Homo sapiens: one gene and its partners. The protein of the gene in region 3 purifies or fractionates together with the protein of the main gene of each other region. This does not show direct contact. Each region holds a gene or a part of one and is shown on either strand. Other genes may lie near its edges.

Region 1 (7,022 bases), on a different chromosome or scaffold from region 3:
GCGCTGCCTCCGATGGGGACTCGAAAACTTCATCCGGGTATGTGGACAGCTCTTCATGGAGGATACCTTCCTGAGCAAACACATGAGGTCAGGGTGGACACAGGCAGGAAGGGAACGTGGGGTGGGGGGACACCCCGGGCACTTCTTACCCGGGCAAAGAAGGATGTGTCCAGCTCATCGGGGAAATCAGTTGTGTCCTCCTCCAGAAAGCTAGCTGGAGTGAAGCTTCGACGCTGTGCCCGGCGAAAGGTGCCATCCCTAACGGAGCGGCCCTGGGGACGGGGAAGTGAGCATGAGACCCGGCTGCTGGGTCGGCCCCCAACCCCGCCTTTGGCCCCTGCACCCACTTTCATCAGCGCTGCGGCCGCCCGGAAGCTCATCTTGGCCACCGACTCTCGCTTGCGCCGCCGCGGGAGCCGGTGGAAACCTGAGCGGGAGCTGGAGAAGGAGCAGAGGGAGGCAGCACCCGGCGTGACGGGAGTGTGTGGGGCACTCAGGCCTTCCGCAGTGTCATCTGCCACACGGAAGGCACGGCCACGGGCCAGGGGGTCTATGATCTGGAGGAGGGGAGGAGATGCTGGAGTCAGGACCATGGGGGCTCCTAGCTCACCCAGAGGCACAGAGGCCTTGCAAAGACAGCGTGACTGCTGCTCCTGACTCCTCACGGGCCCCTGGACAGCTCTATGGCCACCACTCCCACCCCACAGCACCTAGAGGTCCTGCCTGGAATGCTCTCCCATCCAGACACTGGCCCCCTGGTGCAATCCCAAGACCATGTCCCCATCCCAAGGTACCCCTTCCCAGAGACTGTTTCAGGTGCCTTCACGAGCAGGCTGTCTGACTGCCCTTCCAGACTGTGAGCTCCCAGAGAGTCCCTTCTGCTCAGGCTGGCTGTGTCCGCAGCCCCAGCCCCTGAGAGCGGAAGGAGGGGCCTGCAGGAGGCAGCAACAGGCAGGCATACCTTCTGCATGCCCAGCTGGCATGGCCCCACGTAGAGTGGGGGTGGCGTCTCGGTGCTGGTCAGCGACACGTTGTCCTGGCTGGGCAGGTCCAGCTCCCGGAGGACCTGGGGCTTCAGCTTCCCGTAGCGCTGGCTGCAGTGACGGATGCTCTTGCGCTGCCATTTCTGGGTGCTGTCACTGTCCTTGCTCACTCCAAACCAGTCGGCGGTCCCCCTGGCATGGCAGGGACTCAGCAAGGGGCGGCCAGATCGCCCCTCCCAGGCAGGGGACTTCAAAGGCCCTCCTCCGGGGCAGCATGCTGCCCCCAGGCCTGTAGTCACTCCAGGGACCAGGGTCTGAGTGGGCAAGGTCTAATAAGAGGATGAGTGGGTTCCAGCCACCCCCTGAACTGTTAGCCAACTCCAAGTTTCCACTAGACCGCAGCTGGCCTTGCCCGGTTGAGTGCTTCATAGAGGCCCTCACCCCACCATCCCTGAGGGGCAGTTGAGGGGAGGCACTGAGTCCAGAGAAGGAGCTGAGAGCTCAACCCGAGAGAGCTTGGCCCCAGGACACCACAGAGCTCAGACAGCAGGTGCTTACGGGCCCAGGCAGGCTGTCCACAGCACTTGGACATGCAAACAAAAACACTGCCAGCACCTGCCGTTAGGAGCCCCAGGGAATGCCAACCACACTGGCAGCTCCCAAGAGGTCACATGCCAAGCACATGCCAGAAAACACCAACACACTCATGACCTGTATGAGATACCTGAGCAGGGACCAAGAGAGAGACTGGCGCTGTGGGAAGGCCCTGCGGGCAGCCCGGGGACCCAAGAGGGGCAGAGTGTGGACACGCCCGAAGCGTACTTGTCGGCTGCTAAGAGGCAAGAGCATCCGGGCGGTGGAGACAGAGAAGGAGAGAGTGAGTGCTGAAGAGAAGGGAGTGGAGCAGGGTAGTGGGGTGAGAGCGGTCAGTATCCAGAACAGGAGGAGGGCAAGGGGATGGTGGGGACCGAGATGGAGGAGGAAGCTGAAACAAGAGGGCCCTTGTTCTCATTTCCATCCTCTGTGTACCTGCCTCTGCCCCACCAGCCCCCAGCTCCCACCCCATGGAGCAGCTGGGCGGTGTTGGTACCTGCGGATGGTCTGTGTGATGGACGTCTGGCGTTGCAGCACCGGCCGCCGGAGCTCATGGTGGGGTGAAGAGATGTGGGCTGTCTCGGCTGGCATACTCACACTCCTCAGGAAAGCCTGTCGCCTCAGGGGCTGGGCAACAGGGTCATGGTGAGGGTACTGGACAGGGGGCACCCACAGTCCCTGCAGGCCAGGGCCTACCTGCAGGAAGCTGGGCTCTTCTGCCGTCAGGGGCACCGCAGAGGGAATGTCCAGCTTTAGCCAGGGTGGCTTCTTGCGCTGCAGGCTGCTCGTGCTGTCCCTGCGGGCCTCACTCATGGTTCCTGGCAGAGCAAGGCAGGCCTGCGGGGCATGGTGTGTTATTCAATAATGACAAAGCTGACATCTGAAGATTCATTGCACCCAGACCCGGGAGGAGGGAGAAGCAGTGATGAGCCCAACCGTGGTGCTCATGTCCCCCACTGTCAGAGCACTACTGTGTGCTCAGCACCGACTTTCTCTGTGCCTGCCTTGTTCATCCCAGCAGACAGTGCTGGGCACAGCCTAGGTCCTCAGACAACATAAGTCCATGGGACAACTATCTGAGCACACACTATGGTCAGGATACTGCTCTAGGTGCTTGAGGCACATTGGTGGAGAAACGAGACAAAATCCCTGCCCTCCTGGAGCTTACAGTCTAGACAATATTTTTAAATGAGTGAATGTACTGGTTAAAAGATGCTAAGTATGATGGGAGCGGGGGAAGCAAACTAGGGTTGCTTGACAGGAGGCAGTGAGGCCTCCCCATGAAGTAACAGCTGAGCAAAGGCTTGAAGGAGGGGAGTGAGCACAGCTGGGGTTGCAGGGGTTTCCACACACAGGGGACAGCCGATCTGAGGTCTCAGTGACAGGAGGCTCACCCTAGTCTGTGCCCAGGGCAAATCTCACACCTGTCTTACCAGGCCTCACCCTCTTACCCACCCAGACTTCCACTCCAGGGACAAAGGGCCCACTATGCACATGACAGCCTGCAAGAGGTGTGTGATCGGTCCAGTGCATAGAGTCACCACATTCAGGAAAGAGGGTGACACAGCAGCAGCTAGTGGCCCCAGGCTCCTGGGCACAAATGACTTTCCAGAAACCACCCGGGCGCAGACACCGTAGTGACCACCAGGTGACGCCACGCGCCCAGAAACAGCAGTGAGGCGGCTCGGTGCCGGGGCTGCGGGGCATTGCAAGCTTGGCTCTACCATGACATGCCAGGCACGGGGCCAGGGCCCCACGGAAGGCCCCAGAGCAGATAGGCCAGGGTTCGATTCTGGCCACCACTGCCTGGCCATATGACTACGACTCCATTTCCCCCTTACACCTTCCTGGCAGACCTGCAGCTGTCCCCAACCCAGGGGGACCACACGGCGATTCCAGTGGAGACCCAGATTGAGAAGGGCCCCTGAGCATGACACGAGACAGATAGTGGGGGGCTGGCCAGAGCTGAAGCAATTTTGGACAGAAAACCCCAAATTCCTCAGCCTCTTTAAAGAGCTGCAGCCTCTGACAGGCTCGGAGCCGCTGGGTCGGCAACCCACCCACCAAGGCCCCAGAAATGGCTTTCACTCACAGGTCTCCCTCCCAACTGCTTGGAGGAAAGCCCCACCTATGCTGTACAAATAGGGAAACTGAGGCCAGGAAACACAGGCTTGCCTCGCTCACGGTCATATATGGAGGGCAGCACAATTAGAGACAGCCCAGGGTGCTGCTCACAGCTCCTAATGGTCTTATGCCAGCCAGGGACAGGCCTGGGACAGAGCTCACGGCTCCTTCCGACCCTGTACTACCAGGGAAAGGCTGGGAATGCTGCTCACAGCCCCTACTGGTCCTACAGGGACCAGAACAGACACAGGTGGGAGGGGGTACTTCAGGGATGCCTTCTGCTGGCTCTTACCCCACCCCTCACGCTCCAGCCCCTTATCTGAGCTGACTGTGCACTTCAGGTCCCAGGTGAGAGCTGGGGGGCAAAGCTTTGGGGCACTCCCCAGGCATGGTGCCCAGGGATCATTCCATCCACATGGCCCCCTAAGGCTGAGTTCCTGTCCCTGGCCCATACTTGGCCTGGAATCAGGGGCACGAGCCAAGGGCAGCAACTCCACATCACTGGGAAATCCCTCCAGGGCCCCTCACCCATGCAGAGCCCCAGAGTGCAACAGGGTCGGACAGAAAGGCATCCTAACTGAGAACTGGGTGGGTCAAGGTCCCTCTGGGAACTGCACCAGGAGACCCCTCTGCATCTGACTCGTGACCCAAACCCAGCCCAGACCTGCGTGTCCTGGATACGGCCCAGCCACAGCGTGAAGGGGTCACAGCTAGACTTCCTCATCGTCCCCCAGCCCTCCCTCCACAGGGTATATGGACTGCAGTACCATCACCCTGCTGGTAAGGAATAGCCAGGAGGGGCCACCTCTGAGTCTCAGACACTAAGGGTGGAATTTCAGACAGCATCAGACACGTTGGGAAGGCAGGTGGTGCTCGGCAAGGGGCTTCCGGAACCCACAGTGCTGGGACAGCATTCTGAGTACACTCCCAGCATGTTCTCACCCAGAAAATGGACGAATGCTCTTAGTGAGGCCATTATGGGGGCCAGAGAGGAGCAGGGCCCAGCGTAGAGACTGGGGCCACTGCCAGGAATCAGCAGGCTGAATCCAGGGGGCCAGCCTCTCCAGGAGTCTCCACCTGTGCCCAGCAGCACTAGGCGACATCCAGCTGGTTCTTCACTCAGGAGTGTGAGTGACCTTTGCCAACAGAGACCGTTGCCAGCTGATGGGCTCACACACATCCATGACTTCCCTGGCTCCTGCTCTCCGCTGCTCCTCACACCTGACTCCCTCCCATCTCAGAGCCCTGCAAATGCGCTCTGCCCACCCTCCCCTGTGTGGGAGGACCTGCAGCCTCAGGCTGCCCTACTACCCAAAGGCGGTCCTTGGCCTGGATCCCTGGGCACAGCACAAGGCAGGAGTTCATTCACATATGTATGGGCCACTGTCCTGTCACTGCTGCCTCCACAGTGCTCAGGACTGGCCTGCTCTGAAGCCACCGCTGGGTAGGCACTGATCACTGAACAACGCAGGCCATCGGGGTCCCTAATCTGGGGTAACGGAGGATTCCTCAAGATGACCTCTCAGCTGGGTCTGGGAAGACGAGCTGCCTGGCATGAGCGGATGCAAGCAGGAACAGTCAGGGGGTGAGAAGAGCCGAGAGCTGTGAGCGTGTACGGGGAACCTGACCTCCCCAGGACTGTTTCGGCCGGGGACCACAGCCGGCCCCAGGAACCTCCCCAGGACTGTCTCAGCCGGGGACCACAGTCGGCCCCAGGAACCTCCCCAGGACTGTCTCAGCCGGGGACCACAGTCGGCCCCAGGAGACAGCAGAGTGCTCAGCTCATGAAGGAGGCACCAGCCGCCATGCCTCTACATCCAGGTCTCCTGGGGTTCCCACCTCCACAAAAACCCCCACTGCTAGGAGTGCAGGCAGGAGGGGACCTGAGAACCGACAGTTATAGGTCCTGCGGGTGGGCAGTGCTGGGTGTTCTGGTCTGCCCCACCCCTGTGTGCCTAGATCCCCATCTGGGCCTCAAGTGGGTGGGATTCCAAAGGAAGAGCCGGAGTAGGCGTGGGGAGGGGCAGGCCCAGGCTGGACAAAGAGTCTGGCCAGGGAGCGGCACATTGCCCTCCCAGAGACAGTGGCTCAGTGTCCAGGCCTTCCCCAGGCGCACAGTGGGCTCTTGTTCCCAGAAAGCCCCTCGGGGGGATCCAAACAGTGTCTCCCCCACCCCGCTGACCCCTCAGTGTATGGGGAAACCGTGGCCCACGGAAGGCCTCACTGCCTGGGGTCACACAGCATCTGAGTCACTGCAGCAGCCTCACAGCTGCCAGCCCAGGCCCAGCCCCATCAGGAGACACCCAAAGCCACAGTGCATCCCAGGACCAGCTGGGGGGGCTGCGGGCAGGACTCTCGATGAGGCTGAGGGACGAGGAGGGTCAAGGGAGCCACTGGCGCCATGCATGCTGACGTCCCCTCTGGCTGCCTGCAGAGCCTGGTGTGGAAGGGCTGAGTGGGGGATGGTGGAGAGTCCTGTTAACTCAGGTTTCTGCTCTGGGGATGTCTGGGCACCCATCAAGCTGGCCGCGTGCACAGGTGCAGGGAGAGCCAGAAAGCAGGAGCCGATGCAGGGAGGCCACTGGGGACAGCCCAGGCTGATGCTTGGGCCCCATGTGTCTCCACCACCTACAACCCTAAGCAAGCCTCAGCTTTCCCATCTGGAAATCAGGGGTCACAGCAGTGCCTGGCACAGTAGCAGCGGCTGACTCCATCACAGGGTGGTGTAGCCTGTGGGTACTTGGCACTCTCTGAGGGGCAGGAGCTGGGGGGTGAAAGGACCCTAGAGCATATGCAACAAGAGGGCAGCCCTGGGGACACCTGGGGACAGAACCCTCCAAAGGTGTCGAGTTTGGGAAGAGACTAGAGAGAAGCTCTGGCCAGTCCAGGCATAGACAGTGGCCACAGCCAGTGGAGAGCTGCATCCTCAGGTGTGAGCAGCAACCACCTCTGTACTCAGGCCTGCCCTGCACACTCACAGGACCATGCTGGCAGGGACAACTGGCGGCGGAGTTGACTGCCAACCCCGGGGCCAGAACCATCAAGCCTGGGCTCTGCTCCGCCCAAGGAACTGCCTGCTGCCGAGGTCAGCTGGAGCAAGGGGCCTCACCCCGGGACACCTTCCCAGACGTGTCCTCAGCTCACATGAGCCTCATCCCAGGGGGATGTGGCTCCTCCAGCATCCCCACCCACACGCTGCTCTCTGACCCTCAGTCTTCTGTTTGACTCCTAATCTGAAGCTCAATCCTAGATCTCCCTTGAGAAGGGGGTCACCAGCTGTCTGGCAGCCCAGCCTCCAGGTCTTCTGGATTAATGAAGGGA
Region 2 (7,216 bases), on a different chromosome or scaffold from region 3:
GCCCAACTCCATATCAGAGAAGCTGGAGAACATATGTCAAGTCATATGCACTGTGTTCTTTATTGAGATAGAAGTGGGGTGGGGAGGGTAGCCCATAGGCAGAGAAGTGAAAGGAGGGAGGAGTGGGAGCCATCTATTTCCCAACTCTGCCTTTCCTCCCAGCTGATGATGGTGGGGGCGTGGCCACCAGCCATGGGATTAAGAAGGAAGACCCCCCACCCTTAGATACAAGCACAGTGCTGCGTGAGAAGGTTGGGCACTGTCTCATACTTGAAAGAGTAACCTCCATCCGAGGTGGTGCGGACATGTAGGGGCCTCATGGTCCCTGGGAGAGCAGCACAGCAGGGCTGGGCCCCTGGCAGCAAGGAGTAGGGCTGGGCTGGGGTAGGGGGAGCCCCAGGGACTGGAAGGGACAGGTTTGGTGGGATGTGCAGCCCACAACCACCATGACAGTAGTGGAAGATGAAACTGGGAGGGTACACGATCCACCGTTCCCAGCCCAGCTCCTGGAAGGAGATGTTCAGTGCTACTCTGTGGCAGTTGGCATGGGCAGCCGGTTCCTCCGGAGGCCTCTGCAGCAGGCGCAGAGCAGAGGGAGACCAAGGCCAGGACATCAGGGGAGTTGAGCGTCGGGCTCTCTCCCCTCCACTGGGTGGTCTGGTCCGAGTGTGGGCCACCAGGAAGGGCGTGGCCTCAGGCCGGGCTGAGCAGGTACAGAGGGGACAGCGCAGCAGCAGCACCAGGACGGGGTGGGTCAGCAGAGAGAGAGCAGAGGTGGCCAGGTGCAGCACGGCCCAGTGAGGGGGAGCATGGCCCAAAGACATGGGCACAGCCACGGGTCCTCCCGGTGACAGTGCCAGCAGGCCTAGCAGGGGCTCAGAGCTATTGGAGGCTGCTGTGCCCTGCCTGTCCAGCCCGGTGTGGAACCACAGCTGGGCTGAAGTCACCTGGCGGCTGCGTGTATGCTGGGATGGCCGGAACATGTATCTGAAGAGGCCCTCCTCAGCCTCCTGGGCCAGCCCTCTGGCAGCTGACTTGTCCTCACAGCTGGCATCTGCAGGAGACAGAAGAAAAGGGAGAGGGCAGCCCTGACTGGCAGGACCTGGCACCCCTCCTCTTCAGCAGGAGGGATGTGGCCACCAGTCATGAGCCAATGATGGGCTGCACTCTGCTCCACGCCCTCCGGGACGTGGGGACTCTCCTGAGTTTTGGGAGAGCTTCTGTAGGCTTCCCATTTTTTAATTTCATCATGAAGGGACTTAAAAAAATAGAAGACATTGCCAACTTCTCTCTGAAGTGGTTTTACCAATTAACATGCCCATCAGCAGTGTGTAAGAGGCCCTCTCTCCACTTCACCAGCACTAAGACTTTGTATTAGACTTCAATGCTTACTCACCAGATAGTGTGAAACAGTATCCTGAATGGTGTCTACATGGATGGTTGTTATATTCTTTTTTTTTTTTTTTTTTGAGACAGAGTCTTACTGTGTCACCCAGGCTGGAGTGCAGTGGCATGATCACGGCTCACTGCAGCGTCTACCTCCTGGGCTCAAGCAATCCTCCCACCTCAGCCTCCTGAGTAACTGAGACCACAGGCGTGTGCTACCACACCTAGCTAACTTTTGTGGGTTTTGTAGAGACAGGGTCTCGCTATGTTGCCCAGGCTGATCTCAAACTCCTGAGCTCAAGCAATCTGCCTGCCTTCACCTTCCAAAGTGCTGGGATTATAGGCGTGAGCCATCACACCCAGCCATATTACCATTTTTTTTTTTTTTTTGAGATGGAGTCTAGCTCTGTCGCCCAGGCTGGAGTGCAGTGGCGCCATCTCGGCTCACTGCAACCTCTGCCTTCCGCTCCGCCTCCCACGTTCAAGCAATTCTCCTGCCTCAGCTTCCCGAGTAGCTGGTGCCACCATGCCTGGCTAATTTTTTGTATTTTTAGTAGAGACGGGGTTCACCATGTTAGCCAGGATAGTCTCGATCTCTTGACCTTGTGATCCTCCTGCCTTGGCCTCCCAAAGTGCTGGGAGTACAGACGTGAGCCACCGCGCCCGGCCTATATTACTCTTTATATCTTTGGCATGTCAGGAATATTGTAGGATAAATTCTTTAAAATAATTCCATTTTTAAAAGACAGGTTTACACCAAAAAAAAAAAAAAAAGAAGAAGGAGGGAAAGGCAAGTGGGAAAGGGAAGAAAATGGAGAACAAGGAAGAGGGGGAAGAGAAGGAGGAGGGCTGTAACTCAGAACAGAGGGCAGTCCTTTCAAGAATGTGTAGTTAGCATCCTCACACTGACACACTCATAGACTATACTAATCATCCTGGAGCAGCACTCGTTCATGGACTGGCAATTGGAACTATACTGTTACATGGCTTCTCTCATTATCTAGTCACAATTGGTCCATTTTGCAGATAAGGAAACTGAGGCTTAGAGAGGTGAAATGACGTTCAACGACTAAGTGGCCAGGCTTGGATTTTGCCTGATCCCAAAGCCATCCTTCTCCCCACTGTGCTGCGAACGGACTGAAGTGAGGGAGGCAGGGGTCCTCTCTAAGAGAAAGGTGGACCAGATGACAAGAAAGCCCACCCACAGGAGGGCTTATCCATTCAGTCAGTGGAACAAGGGGGCACATATATGTTGAGACAGGAACTCAAGAGAAGATAGACTAGTTTTCCAGAAAAGTTTCCCAACTAATCTTTTGCCTGTATCTCTGATAGCTTCTCAGTGTCAGCTACCTGGGAGTAAAGAAACAGGGTTTGGAGCAGCGAGCAGAGGCAGAGATAGGAGGAAAGGTGGCAGGAAGGGGCTCAAGCCCAAATATCTCCATCTTTAGAGACCCCCGGTCTCCCAGCGCATACTTCCCAAATGCCTCCCACCTGCCATGCACTCTAGGTACAGCCTCTCACTTAATCCTGAGAGGTGGGCATTAGCCCATTTTACAGATGGGGAGACAGAAGCATAAGGAAGTTTAGTAACTGGCCTATTGCTGCAAAGCAACTGAGTAGCAGGACTAGGATTCAAACCCAGGTCCGCCTGGCCTGCAAACCCATGCTGTGCCTTGCTTTTTCTCAAAGTCATCCTGCCGGTTCCCCCACCCTCGTTACCTGTGGCTGGGAAAAGGATGGCTTGGGAGACATCCTCCTCTTCCTCGGGCTCAGAGCCCCTGTGTGTGAAGCCCCCCAGGGCATGTCTTCGGGGCAGCCGCCTGACTCCAGGGTCCCCACCTTCCCTGGTCACCGCGGGGGGCCCCAAGGCATCCAAGAACAGGGCCCTCACCTTGGCCAGAACAAGTTCCCGGGCCAGCTCCAGCCCCTGGCAGCTGTGCCCACCCTGTGGGGTCAGCAGCAAGAAGAGCAGTAGGTGCAGCACCATAGCTCACCTGGCCCTGCTAGTGGGGAACTCACACCCTGCCCCGTGCCCCTTCTGCCAGGGTCTGCCCAGGGCCTTTCCACTCTCCCCTCCCCATCCCACACCCACCCTCTTCTACCCTTCTCATCCAGTCTTCCCCAGTCCTTTCCACGCCCCACAGTCCGAGTTGCCCCTGCCCGTGGCATTGAGACCTCCTATCTCTGACGCAGATGTCTGTGGCCATGAGCCTTATCTCCCACTCCCGCCAGGGATGTGGGGGAGGGGCTGGGAAGGATTTCGCCTCAAGCGACCTGACTCACACATGCAAACATACAACACCTTCTCCCTACACACACACACACTCACACACACACTCACACACACACTCACACACACACAAATTCTCACACACACACACTCTCTCACACACACACACACAGACACATCCAGAGGTGACATCAGGTGGGACAGGAGCCTGGGAGCTGTAGCCGGCCAGCCCCAGAAAGTGTTATTTGTCAGGGAGACAAAGTGCATCACCCCTCAGACCTTCTGGGGCCCCTTTCAATAAGCAGCTGCTGGCCGGCCAGCCCTTGGGGGCAGGGCTGGAACCGGGGCTAGAACCGGGGCTAGGGCCGGGGGCAGGTGGTCCTGCCTGCTCTATACTTAGACCAGTGGAGCCAGTCTGGGCTCTTGTCCTCCAGCTGTGTCATCAGAGAATATTTTTGGGATTGGCAGCTGCAGGCGCCTCTGCCACTCAGGCCCAAGCCTGGCGGGCGGCTGGGGACCTGGCGGCTGGAGGTGGGAGGGAGGAGGGGGAAGAGGCCCAAGCTGTGGGAGGGGGCTGGGAAGAGAGGCTCCTAAGAGCAGGAAGCCAGGCAGCGGGCAGGGGAGGCTGCGGGGCCACTCGCTGGAGAGGCAAACAGGAAGGACTGCCCCCTGAGCGCCAGGCTTCGGGCCCGGGAATCGCCGCCGCCGCCGCCGCAGAGCTGCAGCTCGGGGCCGAGGGTAAGGAGGCGAGCCGGGAGCGGGAGGCCCGGGAGAGCTCCGCGGGTCCCCGCGCCCAGTCCCCAGCCGCGCCCCGACCCCGCCGCCCCGGGCCTCGGCTCGCCCTCCGCACCCCCCCCTGCCCCCCCACCGTTCGCCGCTGCAGGCGGTCGGCCGCCGCGATGAAGGCGAGCTCGGGGGATCAGGGGAGCCCCCCGTGCTTCCTGCGCTTCCCGCGGCCTGTGCGGGTGGTAAGTGGCGCCGAGGCCGAGCTCAAGTGCGTGGTCCTGGGGGAGCCGCCGCCTGTAGTGGTGTGGGAGAAGGGCGGGCAGCAGCTGGCGGCCTCGGAACGCCTGAGCTTCCCGGCGGACGGCGCGGAGCACGGCCTGCTGCTGACCGCCGCACTGCCCACCGACGCGGGGGTCTACGTGTGCCGCGCCCGCAACGCGGCCGGCGAGGCCTACGCGGCGGCCGCCGTCACCGTGCTGGAGCCGCCGGCCTCCGACCCCGAGCTGCAGCCCGCCGAGCGCCCGCTGCCATCGCCGGGGTCCGGGGAGGGCGCCCCGGTCTTCCTCACGGGGCCTCGATCCCAGTGGGTGCTGCGGGGGGCGGAGGTGGTGCTGACGTGCCGGGCGGGGGGCCTCCCCGAGCCCACACTGTACTGGGAGAAGGACGGGATGGCCCTGGACGAAGTGTGGGACAGCAGCCACTTCGCGCTCCAGCCGGGCCGCGCCGAGGACGGCCCCGGCGCGAGCCTGGCACTGCGCATCCTGGCGGCTCGGCTGCCGGATTCCGGCGTCTACGTGTGCCACGCCCGCAACGCGCACGGCCACGCGCAGGCGGGGGCGCTGCTCCAGGTGCACCAGCCCCCCGAGAGCCCGCCCGCGGACCCCGACGAGGCCCCCGCGCCGGTGGTGGAGCCGCTCAAGTGCGCGCCTAAGACCTTCTGGGTGAACGAGGGCAAGCACGCCAAGTTCCGCTGCTACGTGATGGGCAAGCCCGAGCCCGAGATCGAATGGCACTGGGAGGGCCGCCCGCTGCTCCCGGACCGCCGCCGCCTCATGTACCGCGACCGCGACGGCGGCTTCGTGCTCAAGGTGCTTTACTGCCAGGCCAAGGATCGTGGGCTCTACGTCTGCGCCGCGCGCAACTCGGCGGGCCAGACGCTCAGTGCCGTGCAGCTGCACGTGAAAGGTACGGCGGAGCCCGGGACCTAGGGAGGGGCCTCGAGTGTCCTCCGAGGCCCTCCGAACTCCAGCCCTCCTCGGTGCCCAGCGCTGCCCCCAAGACTGGAGGAGAGGTGGTCCGCGGGAATATTAAAATACCAAACCCGCCCGCCTCTCACTCCCCAGGGATTCGGATTTAGTAGGTCTCCAGGGTACTCAGGAACTTCTTAGCAAACTCCTTAAATGATTCCGAGGCAGATGGTGGAACACCACTAAGGAGTGATTGATGTACAAATCCGGAGGGCCCTAGAACTCTTCTTCCCTAGTGGTTTTCAACGTCTTTGTTATTTTACTCCTCCTTCCCCCACTGAATTCACAACCAGAGCCCCAATATATGAGACAGATAAAGGAGTAGTTTATGGGCGTAAATTGCTGAGTCTACGTATATAACAGGTACTTCTAAACCATCAGTGAGAATAAGGAGGCTATTTTATTGAATACAGGAATTTGAATTAAAGGCTGCATTCATGAGACCAGGCTCTGAACCCTGTGGGGACGGCCTGGCTGCATCTGTCACCTTGAGAAACAAGTGATTCAGTGGAAAGCTAGACTTGAGGGAGGACAAATGTCCTGCGTGTTTTTACTATTCTTTGATTAAACTGCTCCCCACGTTTGCAAGAAGAGGAAGGTGAAGGAGAGAAGGTTTATATTTCAAAGTTGAATCACCAACAATATCCAATAAATGGTTACATTCTCATAAACAGAAAATTCCAAAGGAAAAAAAAGCACACCCCAAACTCACCAGAAGGTAACGCTCCCCATAATAGGATTTCATCACAACGCAAAAGAGTACACCTTCACTAGTTATTGTCCAGTTTTTTCTCTTAGAGGAAAAAAAGTTGGTAAATTCTCCTGAGTCCTTCCTAGCATGCAGTCAAGCATGTTGCCCCCAGGCTGCGGTGGTGGCCTCACTGTTACAGTTCAATGCTCACAGATTCATCAGGTTGGTGCTGATCTGGACCTCCATCAGGAAAGAAAAGCCCGGAGGGAAGGCTAGAGGAGCTTCCCCGAGTTGCATACACACACGCACACAAAAACTTGCTTCTCCAGCAGCCCTAGTTAATCCTCTGATTTCCAACATCCTGTTTTCTTTTCTTTTCTTTTTTTTTTTTTGAAATACACTTTTGAAAAGGGTTAAAATAGCTAGGCACAGTGGCTCACCCTGTAATCCCAGCACTTTGGGAGACTAAGGTGGGCGGATCATTTGAGGTCAGGAGTTCGAGAACAGCCTGGCCAACATGGCAAAACCCCATCTCTACTAAAAATACAAAATCATTAGCCAGGCGTGGTGGCGCCTGCCTGTAATCCCAGCTCTACTTGAGAGGCTGAGGCACCAGAATTGCTTGAACCCAGGAGGTGGAGGTTGCAGTGAGCCGAGATTGCGCGACTGCACTCCAGCCTGGGCAACAGAGCGAGACTCCATCTCAAAAAAAAAAAGAGTTAAAATATTTTAAATTCTACTCAGACCCTTGCAGAATATGTGAAATGACTGGGGCGGGGGGAGCCAGGGAACAGTTTGGAAATCACCAATCTAGGGCCTGGAGGACCCCAGGGAACAGTTTGGAAATCATCAATCTGGTCCAACCCCTTCTCTCCCTTTCCCCATTTTACAAGTAAGGAGACTGAGGCCCAGAAGCATTGAAATGGACTTGCTTAA
Region 3 (7,022 bases):
CTGCATTTCAGTTGCTTAATAATTAGCCACAGGCAGCTGGTGCCTATAACCACCACATTGGATAGCACAGATATAAAACATTTGCAATACCACAAAAGTTCTAGTACACAGTTCTTACTTACAAGCCCAAACCACCAATTCCAAATGCAAAATGATCAATAAATAAGGAAAACAGGGAGAAAACTGGACACTCAAACAATGAGTACCTTCTAGAGCAAGCTTTTCCAACCCAGGGCCTGCGGGCTGCACGTGGCCCAGGGCTTTGGATGCAGCCCATCACAAATTTGTAAACTTTCTGAAAACATTACGAGATTTTTTTTTTGCAATTTTTTTTAAGTTCATCGGCTATCATTAGTGTATTTTATGTGTGGCCCAGGACATTTCTTCTTCCAATGTGGCCCAGGGAAGCCAGAAGATTGGACACCCCTGTTCTAGAGGTTGCATTTAAATATCATAAATAAGTGACAGGTGCATGTCTTTCAGGCTGAAGGAAGAGGGTATGAGGCCAATACATTCTCCAAAGGTTTTTTAAAGAGGAGTTCTGCAAATTAGAAGAACAGCGAAGAACAGAATATTGGAAAAGAAATTGTGGCCTATGTGACAGGTAGCTTTGGATTATATTCTCTGGGTCTTGGTTTCCCCATCTATTAAAAACAGGGGATTCAACTAGATGTTTTCTAATTAACTTTCTGATCTCATTGGTACTTTTCAAAAAAAATGAATAGAGATTACTAACATCTTCAAGACCAGCCAAGATTAAACTAAAATTCAACTGGGTTAAACTCTAGTTGTACTCAACACTAGCTGCAAACTAGAAGACTGTGCTTTGACCCATGACAACAAAATGGAGTCTTTGGGGTGGTCCCCAGGCATCTAGAGTTTTTAAAAGCTCTGCAAAGTGATTCTGACACACTATGAGGGTTAAGAACCACTATGCTGGAACACAAGTGACCGTATAGTTCAGGCAGGAAAAGATAATGGGAAACATTTTCCTCTTGTCAGGCAATCAAAGCTGTATCTACACAGATGGCAACTTACAAGAGAAAGGTTAAGTATATTACAAATAAAAATCCTTTGAATTCGACTTTTACAATCCAGGAGAGAACATCTGTCTGAAAAAGAGCCAAGTAGAATAAAATAAATAACTAAAACCAAAATTTTGAAATGAATTCTCATGTATTAAAAAATGAATCCCTTATTAAAAAGTTTAAACACTAGGTTGTTTATCTAAAGCTCACAGAAGAAAAAGACCTAAGCACAAAGGGAAGATTTCCTACAGGCAGAAAGTTAGCATTTAAAAGGGTCAGGGAATAGACAGGTGTCTGTGAGACAGGACCACAAAGGTACAAGACTCACACTGCTTCGAAAACTTTCTAACACTAGTCTGCCAAGGAGTTCCATCCTTTCCTACCTATCACAGAATTAAAAACAAAACAAAACATTAATGATTCATAGGTAGACAATTAAGTGAGAAGGTGAAGGGGTAATCTGTTTTGCAAGGCCATTACTGAACATGATGGCTAACATTTACTGGCAGGCTCGTCTCAGTACTTTCCAGTTATTTTCTGGCTGAATTCTTACGACAACCTTGTGAGTATGTATGATTATTATCATTTTACGGTTAAGGAAACTGAGAGAAATAGAGGTTAGGAAACTTACTCAAAGTTACATAGCTGGAAATAAAAGAGCTAAGATCTAAATCCAGGAAATCTGGCTCCAGAGCATGTGCTTAACCTGTATGTTATACTGCCTTTCCCTCTCTGCCACCTTGTGTGTCTACACCGGCATGGAGGTCTGTGACTGACTAAATGGTAGCTGGAGATACAGACACAAGAAGAGGAAGGGGAGCAGGGAACAGAGAATAGCATCAGGACAGCAGCTACTCTAGAGGACAAAGCAAGGATGGGACTCTGAGATATGTACCTGAGGAAAGGGGGAAGTATGAATTTTCCCTAATTCTCTTACCTTGGACTGTAATATATATATACCAAATTTCTGAGAAACAGATATAAGGTGAATGAAACAAAGGACAAAGGAGAAACACCAGGTATTAAACTAATTTAAAATCCAGAGGTAGGGAGTAATAAGGTAAGCTAAATACAGGGAGACTGAACTCTGTTATCAATCCTAATATTCAGAGAGAAAGAAACAGCTTTACCTGAGAAATAGAGGTTTTTTCAGTTCATAATGAAAGTACATTCTCTCTAGCAGAAGATAGTTAGAACACGTGGGTAGATATCATGAACATCATAGCCATTACAGAAGTATATCCCAAACTGTAAGCAAGTGAATTGACATTCTGGTTTATAAACTCAATTAGTTTATTTAGGTAAGGGACTAAAATGGCTTTTAGATCTCTAGGCATAATAGATCAGAGGTAGCATGTCTAATATTGCCTAACCAAAACCACCTGAAGGCTAGTTAACTCAATTCTATTAAAAAAAGAAAAAATCCCCAAAACTAATTCTAGACATATATTTTAACAATCTTTCTCACCTAAACATCTTCCATAAGTAGAACTGATGAGAGTTCCAACAGACCACATTTTTCATGACATTAATACTAAACCATGAAACAAGCATACCGCAGATAGGAAAGGAGCTAAAATAAAGGGGCTATAATAAACCATAAACTAGACAGTAAGTCTTGGAGTAAATTAGGGTTTGGCTGCAATCTGGGAAAAAGTTGTGCTGGAAAAACAAAAGTACATTACATGGTAAGCTTTTCACTTCTTGCTTTTACTATTTGTTGTCAAACAACAAACATAACAAGTAAGCAGTATATCACTGCAGGTACCAAACATAGCCCTTTTAATACATAAACATAACAGCAAGATGCCCTTCATTTATAAATGGGCATCTTGTGCTCATTAAGTGTTTATACAAGAAGACTAAAACTGTCACTGGGATCTGGAGTTTCTCATGAGTATGCTCAGGTCTCAGAACTGCTGTGGGATGATTAATAAGGGACTGTTGCAAAAAGAAGACAGACTTGATGGGTTTTTCAACTTATGAGGAATTTTTCCAACTCACAAAAGTAAACTGAAGCCTCTTTCTTGGCAAGGCAAGCTACTCAGTTTGAAGAAAGACCTCATAATGCATTATCTAGACTATAAAAGCAAAATACTGAGAGTCTTCCCTAGAGATAAGTAAAAGGAGTATACACCCATGGACACTGGAATACAGATAAGAAACAAGAATCCAAAACTTTTTAAAGGATACGGTCTGTACCAGGAAACAATGTTCTTCCAGTCAACAGCTCGGCCATTATGCATCCCACTGACCAAATATCAACTGGCAAAATTAAAAAGAAGTAAAAGTATATGCAATGTCACTGTTACAATTCTTGGCAACAAATGAAACCGTAACTAGGGGTGAAATATTCAAATTACTATTTAAGACATCTGAGGCTCAACAATCATACTCATTTTTACAGAAATAAATAGCTTACTAAGATCTTCACCTGACTAAAGGGCTGTTCAAAGGTGGGGTAAGTCAAAACACACTTAAGAGAAATAAGCTGTTTAAAAAGGGGCAAGTTTCTTATTAGTAGAATGGTAGATTCTTCCAAGTAACATTGAGGGGTTAAAATTATGGACTAATTGTCTTTAGGTATAAGTACTCAGAGAATATATTCAAAATCTAAATAAATAAAAACCCAATTGCTAAATCACAAGGTTTAAAAGCTGTGTATAAAACCCCACTTCCCCATCTGAGGAAGTGAAATATTTTTACTTGCAGGCTTTAAAAGGATCACTGAGGGAAGAAAAGACATTTCTTCCCACTCCCACCATCTCTATTTCTGAGAATCCCAAATGCATCCAACATGGAATTAAATAAGGCCCTAAATAACCAAGGCGAGTAATACCTGTCTGGTTGTAATGCATCCAGTTCAGCATGATCTCAGGAGCCCTGTACCACCTAGTGGCCACGTAGCCTGTCATTTCATCATCTGTGTGCCGAGCCAGTCCAAAATCCAGAATCTAAAGGGCAGAAGAGGAACAGACAAACTGCTAAGACTTAGAAACAGGCAGGGAAAAAAAAACAAAACAACAACAACAAACAAACCTCTGTTGCCTTATTAAAAAGGAGAACAAAATAGCACTTTCATAAAGAGATTTCCTGGTCCATACTTAGAATGTATGGTAAATATACAGCAAGAACTTAAAATGAAATTACAAAAAGCAAAACAAAAATGTCACTCCCAGGTATTTAATCAAGTGCAATGAGAACTTACGTCCATACAAAGGTTTGCACATAAACATTCACAGTTGCTTTACACAGCCTCAAACTCAAGCAAATGTCCATCAGCAGGTGGATAGATTTAAAAATTCTGTTATGTTCATAAAACAAAATACTATTACCAATAAAAAGGAAGAAACCACTGACACACACAACAATACCGAATCATTACACCAAGCAAAGGCCAGACACACAAAAATACACACTATATGATTCCATTTACATGAAACTCCAGAAAAGATAAACCTAATCTATAGTGTTAGAAGCAGATCCATAGTTGCCTGGAGCCAGAGTTAGGGGTGGAGGGGTAGGGATTGACTAGGAAGGGACACAATAAACTTTTTTTTTTTTTTTTTTTTTTTTGAGACGGAGTCTTGCTCTGTTGCCCAGGCTGGGGTGCAGTGGCACTATCTCGGCGCACTGCAAGCTCTGCCTCCCAGGTTCACGCCATTCTCCTGCCTCAGCCTCTCAAGTAGCTGGGACTCCAGGTGCCCGCCACCATGCCCAACTAAATTTTTGTATTTTTAGTGGAGATGAGGTTTCACCGTGTTGGCCAAGATGGTCTCTATCTCCTGACCTCATAATCCACCCGCCTTGGCCTCCCAAAGTGCTGGGATTACAGGCATGAGCCACCACGCCTGGCCATAAACTTTTTAAAGTAATCCAAATGTTCTTGGCTGGGAGCAATGGCTCACACCTGCAATCCCAGCACTTTGAGAGGCCGAGGCAGGTGGATCACGAGGTCAGGAGATCGACACCATCCTAGCCAACATGGTGAAATCCCATCTCTACTAAAAATACAAAAATTAGCCGGGTGTGATGGCGTGCACCTGTAGTCCCAGCTACTCGGGAGGCTGAGGCAGGAGAATCGCTTGAACCCGGGAGGCAGAGGTTGCAGTGAGCCAAGATCACACCACTGCACTCTAGACTGGGCAACAGAGTGAGACTGCATCCCAAAAAAAAGGAAAAAAAAAGAAATGGTCTTTATCATAAATGTGAGTTAAGTGGATATATAATTTTGCCAAATGAAATGGTGCATTCTAATGTACAGACATTTTTTCAAGTTAAAAAAATGAAATGGAACAAAAGTTCTAGAGCTGCTTGCTATTTAGAAACAATTAATTCACTTATTTTTTATTTGAATTATTTTGAGTGAGTGGGTTTCTGCCATTTCTCCTCTTAGAAATGTATTTAATCTAGTTATCACCTCTTTGGGCCTACTTACTTGATATTTGACTATTATCCTCCTTTATTATGACTAATATATCAAATTTATAATTTAACTTTATGTTAAAATAAAAACAAGTGATGCCACTTTCAATGTCACTTAGCTTACTCAGAAATGGTTTAAATTTCAAAGTCTGATAATAAAAATAATACGAATTTCAGATAGTCATGGCTCACAAAGCTACTCCCTAAGAAAGTCTGCCTGCTTAGTCAAACATATAATCTCAAAGTAAAGCAAACAATGAATACTGTCTCTTCATTTTACCTTCAGCTCACAGTCTTCATTCACAGCTAGATTACTAGGTTTTAGGTCCTAGGAAGCAAATACAGGGAAGACAGGATCAACTTTATGATGCATGATCAATTCTCCCCCTACAGGTAATAATGAGGATCCAGACATAAAAGACTTCATCCAGCTATCAAAAGACAATCTCCATCCTACAGTCAATATCCAGTCCAAGTTAGCCTTACATAGAAAAAAACTACACATCTTCTTTCTTTAATCAGCTTAAACCTACAGTAAAGTTGCAATCAATCAACATTTCAATGGCTAAAGTTTAGATTAGGATCTTGGCTAAATGCCATTCTTCCACTCTCACCCCACTTCCCCAAAATAATGTAATCAAAGTCACAATACATACCCTGTGAATTATGTCAGCTGAATGTATATACTGCAAAAGAGAAAAAAGTCAAAGTTACCTCCAACCTTCTATTGTCATATTATATAACATATTTGCTGCACATTTTCATGAATCAGTAAGAACTGCTAGTGTTAATAGTAAGATTAGAAATCAGCATAAGTAACTATCAGTATTGTGTACATTTACCATTACTATAATTTCCACAGCCATTGACTCCACTCAGTTGAGCTTTTAATCTATTTTCTGGTTGGCACTCTGGAGCTCAATAAGGACTCAAAGCAGCTAAATATCAAAGATGGGTTTAATTTTAAAACACTGTTTATCTGCCCCTCCAACAAATAAATTAGTCTTTCTTGAGGATTTTTTGAAAATCTCAACATTACGCTGACCAGATATTAGATTACATCAATAAATTATTGTTTAGATGTAAGAATGAAGAGTCCTTATCTTTCAGATATGCAAACTGAAGTATCTATGGATGGTATTATATAATGTCTAGACTTGCTTTAAAATAATCCAGGGCTTGGGAAATACAAAAGAAACATGATTGGCCATATGTCGGTAACTGTTGTCACTGAGTGAACATGGCAGTTTACTGTACTATATGACCTTTACCTGTGATTTTATGTGTTTGAATTTTCCATTAGAAAAGTTGTTTACTTGTTTGTTTAAGCCCTAAAAGGAGGGGAGAAAGGGAGAATTCATTTTAAAAAATTATTACTTGTATTATCTGTACCTTTAGACCTCGGAGAATTTGGTAGATAAGGAACTGAACATGGTCATCTGTAAGCTTCTGACATTTCACAATGTTGTTCAGATCTGCCCCCATGAGATGGGTCACCAGATACCTAGAAATTAGTGAAAAGTTACATAACAATCTAGAACCCCTAAGAAAGTTCTTATCTTCAGAAGA
Region 4 (7,129 bases), on a different chromosome or scaffold from region 3:
CCCCAGAGCATTCGTCAGTTGTCAAGTCCAAAGCTAAGAAATCAGTTCATAAATGTTTTTTGATTTGCATGTTGGCTCAACTCTTTTTAAGTCCAAGGAGGCAGTCCACATTAAGTGTGCAGGCAAAAAAGAGATGGAAAAAGGAGTCAGTTTCTCCCCTGCCCTCCCTCTCTCCCTTTATCAAGCTGAGCACCTTGAGTTGCATTTGAGGAAATGAAAACTATAGGTGACGCAACCCCATTGTGTCGAATTCTTTCTTTACATTTTTTGGGTTGCTACAAGGAATCAGTATTTTTTTTTTTTAATCAGATGGTGTGTGTGGTGGCTCACATCTGTAATCCCAGCATTTTGGGAGGCCGAGGCAGGAGGATCACTTGAGGCCAGAAGTTTGAGGCTGCAGTGAGTTATGATCATGCCACTGCACTCCAGCCTGGGCAACAGAGTGAGACCCTGTCTCTAAAAAATTTAAAAAAAAATCAAAGCATGAACAAAACTTTAACAAGAGAATAAAGAGGGTTGTTAGGTGGAGACGTGGCCAGCACTCCACCTCCACTTTGAAGTTCAGAGGCAGAGCATCTCTCCCTCCCACACTTGGAGGGAGGGCCCGTGGGCTGTCTCTAGCCCTCACCTCACAGCTGGTCTTCTTGCTCTCCCTGCTCAGCTTCTGCTCTGGCCTCGGCCCTCAGCACCCTGAGGTTCCTGGCCTCTCCTGCCCTGGGGACTCTCTTGGGCAGGGTTGGCAACCGGGGAGTGTGCCAGAAGGCTCTCCGGCGCTTGCAAAACCACGAAAAGCGTCCAGGGGTCTGGAACCTCACTGTCTTGACCTGTTTCCGGGCCCTGGCTCCTGGAGCTGTTCCTGTGGTCCCTTGGGCAGCTGAGACTTCAGCTTCCTGGATACCTGGGGCCCCTGCCCTCTGATTATGTGCAGCCTCTGCCCTCTGGCCAGCCCGGGCCTGTGCCCTCTGATTATCTGCACCCTGGACAGCTGGGGCCCTTTCCCTCTGGTCATGTACGGCCTCTTCCCTTTGATTATCTGTAACCTCTGACCCCTGGTCAGCTGGGGCCTCCGCCCTCTGATTATCTGCAGCCTCTTCCCTGTGGTTATCTGTGCCCTGTGACCTCTGGTCAGCTGGGGCCTCTGCCCTCTGATTATCTGCAGCCTCTTCCCTCTGGTTATCTGCAGCCTCTGCCCCCTCCTCAGCTGGGGCCCCTGCCCTCTGATTATCTGCAGCCTCTTCCCTCTGATTATCTGCAGCCTCTGCCCCCTGGTCAGCTGGGGCCCCTGCCCTCTGATTACCTGCAGCCCCTTCCCGCTGGTCAGCTATGGCCTCTTCCCTTTGACTATCTGCAGCCTCTCCCCCCTGATCAGCCTCGATGTCTGCCCCCTGACCTGTGGGTGCTGTCTGCTCCTTCCTGCGGCGCCGAAAGGAGGCCCAGTTGATCTTGGGCCTCCATCGCCTAGGGGAAGCCTGGGGCACACAAACATCTCCCGCGTTTCCCAAGCGATCCCCCGGGCTGGTGCCCTCTGGCGCCGATGATACCCCTGCGCTCTCCACTGCGGTGGAGGCCAGCCGGGCCTCGCCCACCCCGGGGCCCGCCCTCGGCGCCCAACCCTTCACCCTCCGCTTCAGCTTCCCCCAGGACACCTGGCTGACATACTCCCGCCACCTGTCCGCTTTGGACAGCTGAGGCCCCAGGTTGTCCTCAAACATGGGCACTGGCAGGTTGACGCGGCGGCGGGCAGGCGGCGCGCTGGGCTGCTTCTCCTGTCGCCGGAGGAAGGCCTCGACCAGTTCCTCATCATCCTCACTCTCCAGGTCGCTTCCCAGGAACTTGCTGCCCAGGTAGCTGACGGGCATTTTGCGCACCTTCTTGCCCCGCCGCGGGCCCTGGCGGCTCTTGTCTCTGGAGGTCTCGAAGTCGCTGAACTCGCTGTCGCTGGCGTTGCTGCTGTCGTACGTGCCCACGACCAGCCGGGGCGGAGGAGTCACCATCTGCTGCACTCTCCTCCTCACTCGGGGCTCCTTGGGCTTTTTGGGGGGCTGGGGCGGGTGCGGGGTGCTCTTCTCCATGATGCGGGCCACGTCCTCCAGGGTGCGGCCCTCTTCTTCCAGGAACTGGGTCAGCCGCTCCCGAAATTCTGCTTCCTTGGTGGCGGGCTTAGAGATGACTCTCCAGACGCCCCCAGCCAGCCTGACCTCCCGGGGGATGAGCAAATAGTCGACGTCCTCCCCGATCTGCAGCATCCCCACCGTGGAGTCCTCCTCCTTGCGGAACACCTTGCCGATCTTCTTAAATGTCCCCACGGGCTTTAGGGCTTCCACGAGGACGTCCAAATCCACATCTTTGCAGACATCGGGGACGCTCCAAAGAATGAGGCAGTCGGGGGACGGCAGGAAGCCCCAGGGGAACCAGCCCCCCACGTGGCTTTTCTCGAGAGTCTTTAAGATCTCCAGGGTGATATCTGGGGTGAGGGGGCAATGAGCCCCAACAAACTACTGTAGCCCTTAGTCTTGAGGGAGGGACTGGATGGGGGGAGTTCCAGCAACGCTGACCGGAGAGTCTCACCTCCCTAGCCAGGGACGAGCCAAACGCCTCCAATCTCTTCGCCTGCAACAAGTACAGTCTTGACCAAGTCCGGCTCCCCCACCAAGGACTTGGGGGAATCAATTTCCAGGATGCCTACGTGAGCCGGGGGCGAGGTCAGTCCCAAGGCTCAAGGCCCACTCCAAGCTGGAAACGTGGTGTCCCAGCTCCAAGTTGGGGCGCGCGGGCTGCCAGCGACTCTTCCTGCCCCAGGCCCCAGGGACGCGGCTGGAACTTGGGACAGGACTTCGCAGACAAAGACGGTCCAGTCGAAGCTATTCAATATGGCCGAGGCGCTGGGAGGCCCCAGCCCGGGCCTCCAGTAGGGTCCCCCGCCCCCAGGCAGGCCGCCACCCAGCTCCAGGCTGACCTTGACGCGCCGCAGCCTGCCAGCCCGCGCGCTTAGAGCTCTGCACCGTGGAGCGCGCGGGCAGGAAGTTCCTCCTCGCCCTCCGCCAGAATGAGGCCCACCTTCCCCCGTCTCATCTTACACTCCCAGACTCTGGAAGACTGACAGGGGGGCTGTCCACTCCCTTCGGGGCGGCCTCCTTCCCCTCCCCCACAGGGGTGTGGCCGCGCCCCGGGCCTAGCTGGGCCCATTGCTTCCCAGCGAAGCGGCAGTGGCCCACGTCAGCACCTTTCCTGAAAGGCAGCGGTTCCCAAACCTGCCATCCGAAATGTGCAAGTTTCCAGCCAAGTCCGGGAGGTGGGTGTGCTAGTGGATTCTACTTTTTGAGAGCCACTGGCACCACAGATTAGCATTTTAAATTCACGCGACTATCGGTACCCGTACACCTATATGCGTGGGTAGAGAAATGGGTACCTGACTGCAACAGTCCCACTGTGGCGCTTGGCAGGTCAGGGCTCAATACATATTTTTGAGGGGATGAATAAACCCAAATGTTCATGGCCAGGCGCGGTGGCTCATGCCTGTAATGCCAGCACTTTGGGAGGCCCAGGTGGGTGGAACACTTGAGGCCAGGAGTTCGAGACCAGCCTGCCCAACATGGTGAAACCCTCGTCTCTACCCCGGGTGTGGTGGTGCGCGTGCGTAGTCCCAAGCTACGCGAGAGGCTGAGGCAGGAGAATGGCGTGAACCTGGGAGGTGGAGGTTGCAGAGATCGCGCCACTGCACTCCGGCCTGCGCAACAGAGGGAGACTGTCTCAAAAAAACAAAAGTGCAAAAAAACCCCTACAAATAAACAACAACAAAAAACCCTAAAAGTTCACGAGTAGAGACTGCCTCTATTTTATGGTAGTATCTTACAGTGAAATATTTTGCAACTTCGAAAAAAGAATGAGATGGCTAAGGATAGGCACGGTTTATGAGGCGCTTCCTATGTAGTAGGCACCATTCCCAGTGCTTTCTATGAATGAACTCAGGAAATCCTTGCTATAACAGGAGACTGGTAGCATGAGTACAATTCCCATTAGACAGCTGAGGAAACTGAGGCCCAAGGACATAAAACCACACTCTCAAGGTCACAGCCATGGGGAGTGGTTGAGTTTGGATTTGAATCCAGAATAGTCTGCCTTTTGTGTCGACCAAAGAGTCAAGATGGCCAGGCGCGGTGGCTCACGCCTGTAATCCCAGCCCTTTGGGAGGCTGAGGCGGGCAGATCACGAGGTCAGGAGATCAAGACAAGACCATCCTGGCTAACGCGGTGAAACCCTGTCTCTACTAAAAATGCAAAAAAATTAGCCGCGCGTGGTGGTACGTGCCTGTAGTCCCAGCTACTCGGGAGGCTGAGGCAGAAGAATCTCTTGAACCCGGGAGGCGGAGGTTGCAGTGAGCCGCGATCGCACCACTGCACTCCAGCCTGGACGACAGAGCAAGACTCCGTCTCAAAAAAAAAAAAAGAAAGAAAGAAAGAAAAAAAAGAATCAAGATGTGAACCAATGCTAGTCGCATTCGGCCGGGAGCTCGGTTCTTGAGACGCGAGTCTACCGAAGCTCCCGCCAGTTGAGAGGCGAGTCTGCCGAAGCTCCCGGCCGAAAAAGCCAAATCCTTCCTTAACCCAGTGTCTGAGGGGTTTTGTCCGTGGCTCCTCCTGCTACAGGACATGCGACTAGCATTGGTCCACATCTTTGGAACCAGGCATCCAGAGACATGTTGAATAGGCCTCGTTGTTAGGAACCCTCAGAGGTACATGGTAAGGCCAGTGCCATCAATCATCTTTTTACAGACGGTGAAACTGAGGCTGGTCTGAAGTTGCACAGCTCTGAGTGGTGGATCTAATATAATATTAGAACCAGATCTTGGGCACTAGCATTTAAAACACTAGCTGACGCTAAAGACACAGCTAATCCCCTTCTCCTAAATGTGTTGCACCATTTAACCACTTAGCAGCCACAATACTTGCAGCCACTCTTGCCTGGATGTGTACAAAGCCCCCTCACTGGGCTTCCCGCCTCCCCATCACTGCTTGCAATCCAGGCCCCATCCAGAAGCTGGGGGCATCTTTTAAAAACTTAGGTCCGATCTGTCTCTACTCTTTTGAAAATTCTCCATCTCAGGCTGGGCGCCGTGGCTCACGCCTTTAATCCAGCACTTTGGGAGGCTGAGGCGGGCGGATCACCTGAGGTCCGGAGTTTGAGACCAGCCTGGTCAACATGGCAAAACCCCATCTCTACTAAAAAATACAAAAATTGCCGGGCGCGGTGGCTCACGCTTGTAATCCCAGCATTTTGGGAGGCTGAAGCGGGTGGATCACCTGAGGTCAGAAGTTTGAGACCAGCCTGGCCAACATGGTGAAACCCCGCCTCTACTAAAACTACAAAACTAGCCTGTCTTGGTGGCGCATGCCTGTAATCCCAGCTACTCCGGAGGCTCAGGCAGGAGAATCGTTTGAATCCGGGATTCAGAGGTTGCAGTGAGCTGAGACCGTGCCATTGCACTCCAGCCTGGGCAACAAGAGCGAAACTCCGTCTCAAAAACAAACAAACAAAAAAAAGAAACGAACAAAAATATAAGAATTAGCCGGGCATGGTGACACATGCCTGTAATCCCAGCTACTGGGGAGGCTGAGGCAGAAGAATCGCTTGAACTGGGAGGCGGAGGTTGCAGTGAGCCAAGATCGCGCCACTGCCCTCCACCTTGGGCGACAGAGCGAGACTCCGTCTCAAATAAATAAATAAATGTGATCTTATTTAACTCATAAAGGAACCAGGCAAATTTTTAAAGAGGGAACGGAGGAAAAAGAGACGGGCCAGAGGGAAAGAAAAGATGTGGGGGCTTAGGGGACGTTAAGGTCTCAGCGAGCGGCCTGTTCACAATTACCGGCTTATTCAGGTTGTTTTTCTCTTGCAGAGCCAGGTCGTTGGGCTTCGCTGGATTTTTCTCCTCTTTCTCCCTGGCTCAGTCCCAGCCGCCGCGCTCAGCCCCCGGGCCTCCCGCGGCCCCGCCCCTCGCCTCCCCCTTCGCACAGTTTGTGGCCTCCGCAGTCCGGCGGTCTCCATGGCAACCACGGGACGCGCTCCTCCGCGCGGATCAAAACTAAGCGGGTGGGGCGGAGGCGGAGGCGAGGCTGCAGGGAGATGGTGGGGGTGGGGGCGCCACGGAGGACGAGGGCAGGAGCTCCTCTTTTCTGCCCCTGGTGCCTCCCTTAGGCCTCATCCCCAAAGCCAGCTTCCCTGAAAAGCTGTTTGTAGAAACCAAAAAATGAAAAATCCTAAGGACACCTAGGTTTCAGGAATGCTGATTAAAGAATCGCAAGTCTGAGGGCTCATGACAGTGCCTTCCAAGTGGTGACCTCGCAGATGAGACGTTTGGGTTTTGTAGTCATAAAAGGGCTTTCGTTTTGTTTGTTTGTTTTGTTTTTTGTTTGTTTTTCTTTTTTTATTTGGTGGGGGAGCAGGGAGCGGCGCAAGGAGGATAATCTAAGAAATGAAAATCCCAAATGTTCCATATTTTTGCAAAAATCGTCAACCTCCGGCCGGGGGCGGTGACTCATGCCTGTAATCCCAGCACTTTGGGAAGCCAAGGCAGGAGGATCGCTTGAGCCCAGGAATTGGAGACCAGCCTGGGCAACATAGCGAGACTCCGGTCTCCACAAAAAATTTAAAAATTAGCCGAATATTATGGTGTGCGCCTGTGGTCTGAGCTACTCGGGAGACTGAGGTGGGCCTATCGCTTGAGCCCGGGAGGTCAGGGCTGCAGGAAGCGGAGATCGCCCATCTGCACGCCAGCCTGGGCAACAGAGCGAGACTCCATCTCAAAAAAAAAAAAAATTGCCAGCCCCTGAACGGTTCAGCTGTGGGTGTTTTTAATTGCACAGATCTCTGGCAGGTGAGACCCTTCTCCAGCCATCACAGAATAAAATAATAAAAACGAGAACTGTAGCCTCACTTTTGCATTTGTTTAAAATAAATGGAAAGTTGGAAAAGAATGGGGAAGAGAAACAAAACACGGCTGAAATCCCTCTACCCAGCTACATTTTGTTGCCATTTAAAAAAAAAATGGGACACGCGGGCCAGGGGCAGTGGCTCAAGCTTGTAATCCAAGCAATTTGGGAGGCCTACGCGGGCGATCGCCTGAAGTCAG

What was found.
Region 1: the proteins of MAPK14 (region 3) and RHBDF1 purify together in Homo sapiens (affinity purification with mass spectrometry; 4 studies listed by BioGRID and IntAct, with this or other methods). This does not show direct contact.
Region 2: the proteins of MAPK14 (region 3) and OBSL1 purify together in Homo sapiens (affinity purification with mass spectrometry; 8 studies listed by BioGRID and IntAct, with this or other methods). This does not show direct contact.
Region 4: the proteins of MAPK14 (region 3) and CCDC8 purify together in Homo sapiens (affinity purification with mass spectrometry; 5 studies listed by BioGRID and IntAct, with this or other methods). This does not show direct contact.

Annotation. Positions count from the first base shown.
Region 1 is NC_000016.10:62,626-69,647, forward strand, and holds part of RHBDF1 (inactive rhomboid protein 1), read right to left. Parts: intron 2,415-7,022; coding exon of another isoform or gene 2,391-2,414; coding exon 2,274-2,390; coding exon of another isoform or gene 2,205-2,273; coding exon 2,074-2,204; intron 1,176-2,073; coding exon 962-1,175; intron 558-961; coding exon 348-557; intron 273-347; coding exon 150-272; intron 71-149; coding exon 1-70. UniProt on the Homo sapiens protein: Regulates ADAM17 protease, a sheddase of the epidermal growth factor (EGF) receptor ligands and TNF, thereby plays a role in sleep, cell survival, proliferation, migration and inflammation. Does not exhibit any protease activity on its own.
Region 2 is NC_000002.12:219,568,532-219,575,747, reverse strand, and holds the start of OBSL1 (obscurin-like protein 1 isoform 1 precursor), read left to right. Parts: upstream 1-4,208; 5' UTR 4,209-4,515; coding exon 4,516-5,527; intron 5,528-7,216. Other genes in the region: INHA (inhibin alpha chain preproprotein), read right to left, coding at 222-1,054, 3,106-3,373. UniProt on the Homo sapiens protein: Core component of the 3M complex, a complex required to regulate microtubule dynamics and genome integrity. It is unclear how the 3M complex regulates microtubules, it could act by controlling the level of a microtubule stabilizer.
Region 3 is NC_000006.12:36,072,808-36,079,829, reverse strand, and holds part of MAPK14 (mitogen-activated protein kinase 14), read right to left. Parts: intron 6,958-7,022; coding exon 6,846-6,957; intron 6,140-6,845; coding exon 6,110-6,139; intron 5,782-6,109; coding exon 5,734-5,781; intron 3,983-5,733; coding exon 3,868-3,982; intron 3,294-3,867; coding exon 3,222-3,293; intron 1,996-3,221; exon of another isoform or gene 1,966-1,995; intron 1-1,965. UniProt on the Homo sapiens protein: Serine/threonine kinase which acts as an essential component of the MAP kinase signal transduction pathway.
Region 4 is NC_000019.10:46,410,565-46,417,693, forward strand, and holds the start of CCDC8 (coiled-coil domain-containing protein 8), read right to left. Parts: upstream 3,001-7,129; 5' UTR 2,247-3,000; coding exon 630-2,246; 3' UTR 1-629. UniProt on the Homo sapiens protein: Core component of the 3M complex, a complex required to regulate microtubule dynamics and genome integrity. It is unclear how the 3M complex regulates microtubules, it could act by controlling the level of a microtubule stabilizer.